Homo sapiens: one gene and its partner. The protein of the gene in region 1 interacts with the protein of each later gene in a biochemical or structural test. Each region holds a gene or a part of one and is shown on either strand. Other genes may lie near its edges.

Evidence for each region. Proteins that work in one complex are often made in the same cells at the same time.
Region 2: the proteins of RXRA (region 1) and BRD8 form a complex in vitro, tested with the Homo sapiens proteins (one study listed by BioGRID).

The regions. Positions count from the first base shown.
Region 1 is NC_000009.12:134,437,770-134,441,085, reverse strand, and holds the end of RXRA (retinoic acid receptor RXR-alpha), read right to left. Parts: 3' UTR 501-3,316; downstream 1-500. UniProt on the Homo sapiens protein: Receptor for retinoic acid that acts as a transcription factor.
Region 2 is NC_000005.10:138,151,131-138,154,630, reverse strand, and holds part of BRD8 (bromodomain-containing protein 8), read left to right. Parts: intron 1-1,870; coding exon 1,871-2,149; intron 2,150-3,500. UniProt on the Homo sapiens protein: May act as a coactivator during transcriptional activation by hormone-activated nuclear receptors (NR). Isoform 2 stimulates transcriptional activation by AR/DHTR, ESR1/NR3A1, RXRA/NR2B1 and THRB/ERBA2.

The DNA of each region.
Region 1 (3,316 bases):
CATGAGAGGGCTCCGGGCACGAAGACCAAACCAGGCCGGGAGCAGCCCAGCCCCAGACAGCATGGAGACAGAGGGCGTTTATCACAGGAGACAATGCAGATGGGGCATCATTAACTTGTTGTTATTGGGGCAGCTGGGTGACATCGTGTGTTCCTTGGCCCTCTGGGTGCACCTCCTGCCCATCTGGGCCAGCGTGGCTGCAGAGGCGTGGATGCTTAGGCAGCCTGGGGAGGGACAGGTGGGAACACTCGTGCTCCGCAGGCGCCCACAGGCCCAGTGCCCACGGCTGCTGAGAGGTGCCCTCACGGAGGCCCCAGCCCCCTGCCCCTTGGAGGAGCAGCAGAGCCCAGTGGACAGGGAGAGAACTCTCAAGAGTATGGCCCACAGAGGATGCCAGCCTCGCCGCACAGGACCGGCAGGTAGGGTGGACAGGAGGGTGGGCTGGTGGGGGCTGATCGCGGGCCCTCCCGCTCCAAACAAAAAAGTCCCCACACGGAACAAACGAACTGAATGGCGATGTATTTTAAACGCTCATATTTTGTTTCTCCTCTCACACTTCTCCCTTTGCGTGTTCCTTTTCCACAATTCTAATGCTACTGTCCATCAAACCCTGGCACCTGAGGCCACGATGTTTCAGAGACAATCGTACGGAGAAGCCACTTCACAGTCAGTCACAGGAAGGCCAGAGCCGGCAACAGGACACAACAGAGCAAGGCTTTAAAAATTACTCGAAAGGGAAGAAAACCCTTGAAAGCCTCAGGCCCACCCTCCTGCCCCGAGGGAAGACACCCCCATTGCGGCGGTTTCCTCCCAAGCCTCGCCGCCGTCACAGGAGCCCTCTCCTCTGCCATCGTCTGTCCTGGCGTTTCTCGGACGAAGCTTTCACCTCAATCTCTAGAAGCAGAAACGAAACAGTCCCAGCCCTCCCCCCGCCATATCCAAGTATACATGAGGGATAAAATTACATTTGTACAAAAATAGATTTTTTTTTTTTACCTTTCCAGATGCTTTAGACATTTTCTCTTATCTTTACTCTCTTTATGGATCTGTCATCCTCTCTAAAGTATTAGCTATGCGTCCCAGCTAAGGCATTGCTAAGGATTGGGAACGGCTAAAGCTGTCTGCTCCAAAGCATCTTAAAATAGATGCATCTCCTGCCTTGAGATATTCATTCGAACCCGGATTTCACCAAAGGAGGGTCCTTATGTACTTGCTTACACGAAGCAAATTTATAGGAAAACAGGGGAAACGTCTTGATTAAAAATAAACACAAAACACTGGTAACCGCTCCGCCTTTCCTGGGTGGCGCTGGTGTGCGGCTCTCTCCACACGCGTCTCTCTGTACAGCACATACATGTTTACACCACACACCTGCGTGGACGAGCACCAGATCACGCACCCCAGCTCCACGACAGGGACACCAGCCGACTACCCACAGGCTGCACATTCCGGCAGGGCCCTCCTGGGTGCCCCACGGGGAGGGGCTCGGGGTCATCTCCAGCACTGCCACCAGGCCGCCAGCCCAGAATTCTTGGGAAACACCGTGCTCGGAAAACCGAAGGTCAGGGCTGTCCTTCCCAGAGGCCGTGTGCTTCCAGGGTGCGGAGGGCCGGCGGCTGACACAGGCCCCAGGGTGGAAGGTCCTGGCAGGCCAGCTTCCAAGCATGCCCGACGCAGCCTAGGGGAGCCCGGCTCTGTGGCATCTTCACTCCTGAGCCTCAGGAGCCCCATCTGAACGGCAAAGCCGGGAGGTGACCAGCTGAGGAGCGTGCCTGAAGGTGCCGGGGTGCCCTGGGTCCCCAGGAAGCAGCCACTGGGAAGTGGGGGCCCTGCGGGGAAGCCGCTTCATCCAGCCGGGCCAAGGCGGGGACAGGCACAGGTGGCTAATGAGCTGATGTTAGTGCTATCTTTAGAAAATTAAAGATTGTCCCACCAAAATAATAATAATTACAAAAAATCACCTTAATTGAACTGGATTGGTAATACTACTACAGGTCTGGTTAAATAGAAATTCTACCTCTCTACTCAGTGATGAGCCGCACTCCCCACACATCACCTTTTCAAACCAACAGCACTGTACAACTACAAGGCCGATGAGAAAGGGACGGGAAGGCTGCGGGAAGTGCCCGGGACACGTAGAGCGGTGGGTAAGGCTGCTGTGGCCAGGGAGGCCAGGTTCTGCTTTCAGGGGTTGGCGGCCGGGGGGCTTCAGTGCTTTACAGCCAGCCAGCCAGCCAGCCAGCGCCGGAAACGACAAAGTTCCCAAGAAGCAGCCGACCCCCCGCAACGGAGGCCCCGTCCCTGGGCTTTTTCCTCTGGAGCCGCGGGCATTCCCAAGGGTCCGGGCACGGATGGGTGGGCGCTGGCTGCAGAAGGCACCAGGTGTTGGCGTTGGGTCTTTTGCACTCCCACCGCTGGGGCCCCAAGAGTACCTGCACCCTCCTGCCATTTCCACCACACCCGCCAGGGGCAGCTGGGGCTTCCTGGCAGTGCCTGGGAGGGGCCCAGCTGGCCGGGGACCTGGTACAGGTATGAGGCTCAACACTCTGCCTCAGGACGGTGGATCGGGCAGGGGGCCACCTCTAGGGATCCACAACGCTGAAAGGCAGGGGTGGAGGGCGGCGGGGAGGAGAGGCTTCTGGAATCTCTGACAGCCTGTCTCGGGCACAGACTCAGCTGCAGGCTCCACTCGGGTGCCTAAGCTCAGCTCTGGCTGGGAGCTCCAGGAAGGCAAAGAATGGACACTTTCTTCCCCACCAAGGCTGGAAAGCTGCCTCTCCAAGCCACTGCCTCCCGGTCCAACCTGTAGGCAGCTCCCCTCACCACTGAGGAAGCCCCTGCTCCAGGTGGGGAAAGACTATGGAGAAGGCGTCCACCCCCCCGCATCATTCCTAGACTGCGGCTGGGAAGACAAGACCCCCTCCGGTATCCCCCCCATCCACCCTCTGTTCAGGCACCTGCCACTGACAAAGGCTGGGTCCACGGGACTGAGGCGTGAACGGGAAAAGTACTCAGGCCAAAGGGAGGGCCTTCCAGTGCAAAAGAGGCGAGTTCAACCTGAGAGGGCCCCGCACCACCGGAGCCCGGGGGCAGAGCCTGCGGGAGGAGCGCCAGGCCGCACTGGGCTGAGCCAGGGAGGCCCCAAGCCCCGCCCCCACCCCACCTTCAACCAGAGCAGGCGTTCAGTGAGGCTCCCAAGTAAGGCTCTGGGTGAACAACGCTGTCCGTGGACAATACCAGGCTGGGTGGTCCCACCAGGGCCTGCGTGTGGCCCAGGCCCGAGGGCGCTGCGACTCCGGGTTCTCAGATTCCAAGA
Region 2 (3,500 bases), on another chromosome or scaffold:
GAGAAGATACAGTCTTTGTGAGGCAATGGAAAGGTATTCAATTAGTCCAGGAGTTAGAACATGAAATTCCTTGTTACATGGACATGTTGCAAACAAGAAAGGAAAATAAAAAATAACATTGTAGTCCCAAAGCAGTCTGCAAACAGGCATGAGATACAAACACAAGCTCTAAAAGCTGGGAGAAGTGTGTGGAAAAGGTCCATTAAAGGACATACGTTTTGAGTTGGTAGAGAAGGTGATAAATGAGACTAGCAAACCGAATGGAAGGTGTAGGCATCTGGTGGGGGTGGTGGGTGGCAATACGGAGAAAAATGTAATTAGAACAGGGATTATACTAAGGAATAAGGAGGTGTACATGTGAGTGAAGGGAACAAAATAAGGCTAAATTTGTGGAGGACTTTGGCAGATTGAGAAATTTATATTTGAGGTGATAGCTGTTATAAAGCCTTGAGTAGAATAACTATATTTGTTGAGAGCAGATAGGATTAAAGATAGAAAAGCTGACTAGGAGACTATGGCATTTATTCAGGAAAGGATGGACACTGAGAAAACTTATTGTGGGAGAAAACTGGGAAGAGGACTTGCTTACTGAATATAAGAGAAGGAAGGGTCAAAACAGAATTGTGGGTTCTGTAGACTAAGAAAATGGTGATGGGGTCGGGTGTGGTGGCTCACGCCTGTAATCCCAGCACTTTGGGAGGCAAAGGTGGGTGGATCCCCTGAGGTCAGAAGTTCAAGACCAGCCTAGTCAACATGGTGAAACCCCGTCTCTATAAATATACAAAAATTAGCCGGGCATGGTGGTGGGCACCTGTAATCTCAGCTACTCAGGAGGCTGAGGCAGGAGAATTGCTTGAACCCAGGAAGCAGAGGTTGCAGTGAGCCGAGATTGGGCCATTGTGCTCCAGCCTGGGCAACAAGAGTGAAAGTTCGTTCAAAAAAAAAAAAAAAAAAAAAGAAAAGAAAAGAAAATGGTGATGGGGATAAGGAAATTGGGAAGAAGCAGTGATTTTGGAGATAAAGGAAATGTGATTTTTATTTTAGAAATGTTACAGCAGGTGGTAGAGCATCTAAAGGGAATTGACTTTTGGATGCATGGAGAAATGACACCAGAATTCATATAAGAAGTAAAGGTAGAGAGATTTGGGAGCCACCTGAATAGAGGTCAAAGTTGAAACCTCAAAGTATATATACATTTTTTTAAAATACATTAATAAGAAAGCAGAGGACCAAGCATGAACATAGAAGGTAGGGATTTATTGAAAGTTGTAAAAGGGAGAGGACAAAGAAAGATATAAAAAAACCAAGATAGTGGTGTAATGAGAGCAAGGGAAGATATATTTTAAGCTTAATGTTTCTCAACATCAATTTGGATATGACCAGAAGGATGCCAAAGGCAATCCTAAAGTGTGTTTTGAAGGTTTAATGGTTCATAGGTTAAAAATGTTTATACACTGAGGAAAATATCCCCTGCCCCCTCAATTTGTTTGCCTTACGGTTTAGTTATGGATGATTTGGGCTAGAGGAAAATAATTGAGCTAGCTATGCTCCAGTTCTTTCCCTTCTTTTGGTGTGAATATGAGGAATTCCAAGTAAAAATAATTATTAGGTAATATTAATGTCTCTATTATACTGTATTGTATGGTGCAATATCTCTGTTATACTGACATGGGGCTTTCTTTATTCCCAAAGACAAATATAATTTCATCTCATGTCTCCCTTCAGCAAGATTTTAATTCTTCCTAATGATGAATACTTGAATACAAATAAATTTCTGGCCCCTTATTTTTCTACTGAACTCGGGAGATGGAGATGCCTCAGGAATATTTATTTGAATGAATTTAATGCATGTTTTCCTGTGTATTTACAGATGGGACACGAGTGGGTTTGGCTGGATTCTGAACAAGATCATCCCAATGACTCTGAGTTGAGCAATGACTGCAGGTCCCTCTTCAGCTCATGGGACTCCAGTCTGGATCTTGATGTGGGCAACTGGAGGGAAACTGAGGATCCAGAGGCTGAGGAACTAGAGGAAAGCAGCCCGGAGAGAGAACCTAGTGAACTGCTTGTTGGGGATGGAGGCAGTGAGGAATCTCAGGAAGCGGCAAGGAAAGCCAGCCACCAGAACCTCCTCCACTTTCTCTCTGAGGTAACAGTGAGCTCTTATTTCCAAAGCTGGAAAAGCCTCAACTTTCTAAGAGAATGCTTATCCTTACATGCTTCTACCACTCTTAATATTGTTTACTAAAATATAAGCTCCACAGTGGCAGGGATTAAGTTCATTGCTATGTCCTCAGCACTTGGTGCTGATACAGAATATGCACCAAATACATGCTTTTTGGGCCGGGTGCAGTGGCTCACGCCTGTAATCCCAGCACTTTGGGAGGCTGAGGCCAGTGGATCACTTGAGGTTGGGAGTTCGAGACCAGCCTGGCCAACATGGTGAAACCCCATCTCTACTAAAAATACAAAAATGGCCGGGCGCAGTGGCTCATGCCTGTAATCCCAGCACTTTAGGAGGCCGAGGCGGGCGGATCACTTGAGGTCAGGAGTTCAAGACCAGCCTGGCCAACATGGTGAAACCCCATCTCTACTAAAAATACAAAAAATTAGCCGGGCGTGGTGGCGGGCGCCTGTAATCCCAGCTGCTCGGGAGGCTGAGGCAGGAGAATCACTTGAACCTGAGAGGCGGAGGTTGCAGTGAGCTGAGATCACACCATTGCACTCCAGCCTGGGCGACAGAGCGAAACTCTGTCTCTAAATAAATAAATTAATTAAAATTAAAATTAAAATTAAAAAATTAGCCGGGCTTGGTGGCATGTGCCTGTAATCCCAGCTACCTGGGAGGCTGAGGCAGGAGAATCGCTTGAACCCGGGAGGCGGAAGTTGCAGTGAGCTGAGATCGTGCCATTGGACTCCAGCCTAGGTAACAGAGCGAGACTCCGTCTCAAAAGTAAAAAAATTAAAAATAAAAAAATACATGCTTTTTGACTGAATTTCTAATACTTCAGTCATTAGGGGCCTGGGTCATAAGGACTGCTTTATGAGTATCCTTGTAATTCATGCTTTTGGAGTTGTGGGAAGTTATACTTGCCCAAATTTTCCTTGAAGCTTAAAATGCTGTAACTTTAAGGTAGTATTTTTAAGTGTCATTACCTTGGTTAAGGGCTGAGGACCAGAAATAAACAGAATTGGACAGAGAGTTATATGTATGCTGTTATTGAACACATTTAGAAGACCCTAGATCAAGATCAGCAAGCATCCATTTCAAATGTTGCCACTTCTCTCTACAAGTGTCTGTGGTAGACAAAATTTTCAACACTTTATTCTAGACAGCCACTCCCAATTGATCAGAGTTGACAGCTGAGATGAAAAAGTAGAACATAAACTCCTGGAAGAGGCAAGAACCATATCTTTCTTGTTCACTGTAGTGTCCCCACCAACCAGCCCAGTGCCTGTGTATATAAGATATTTTGGCAGATTTTAGATGATTGTATTAA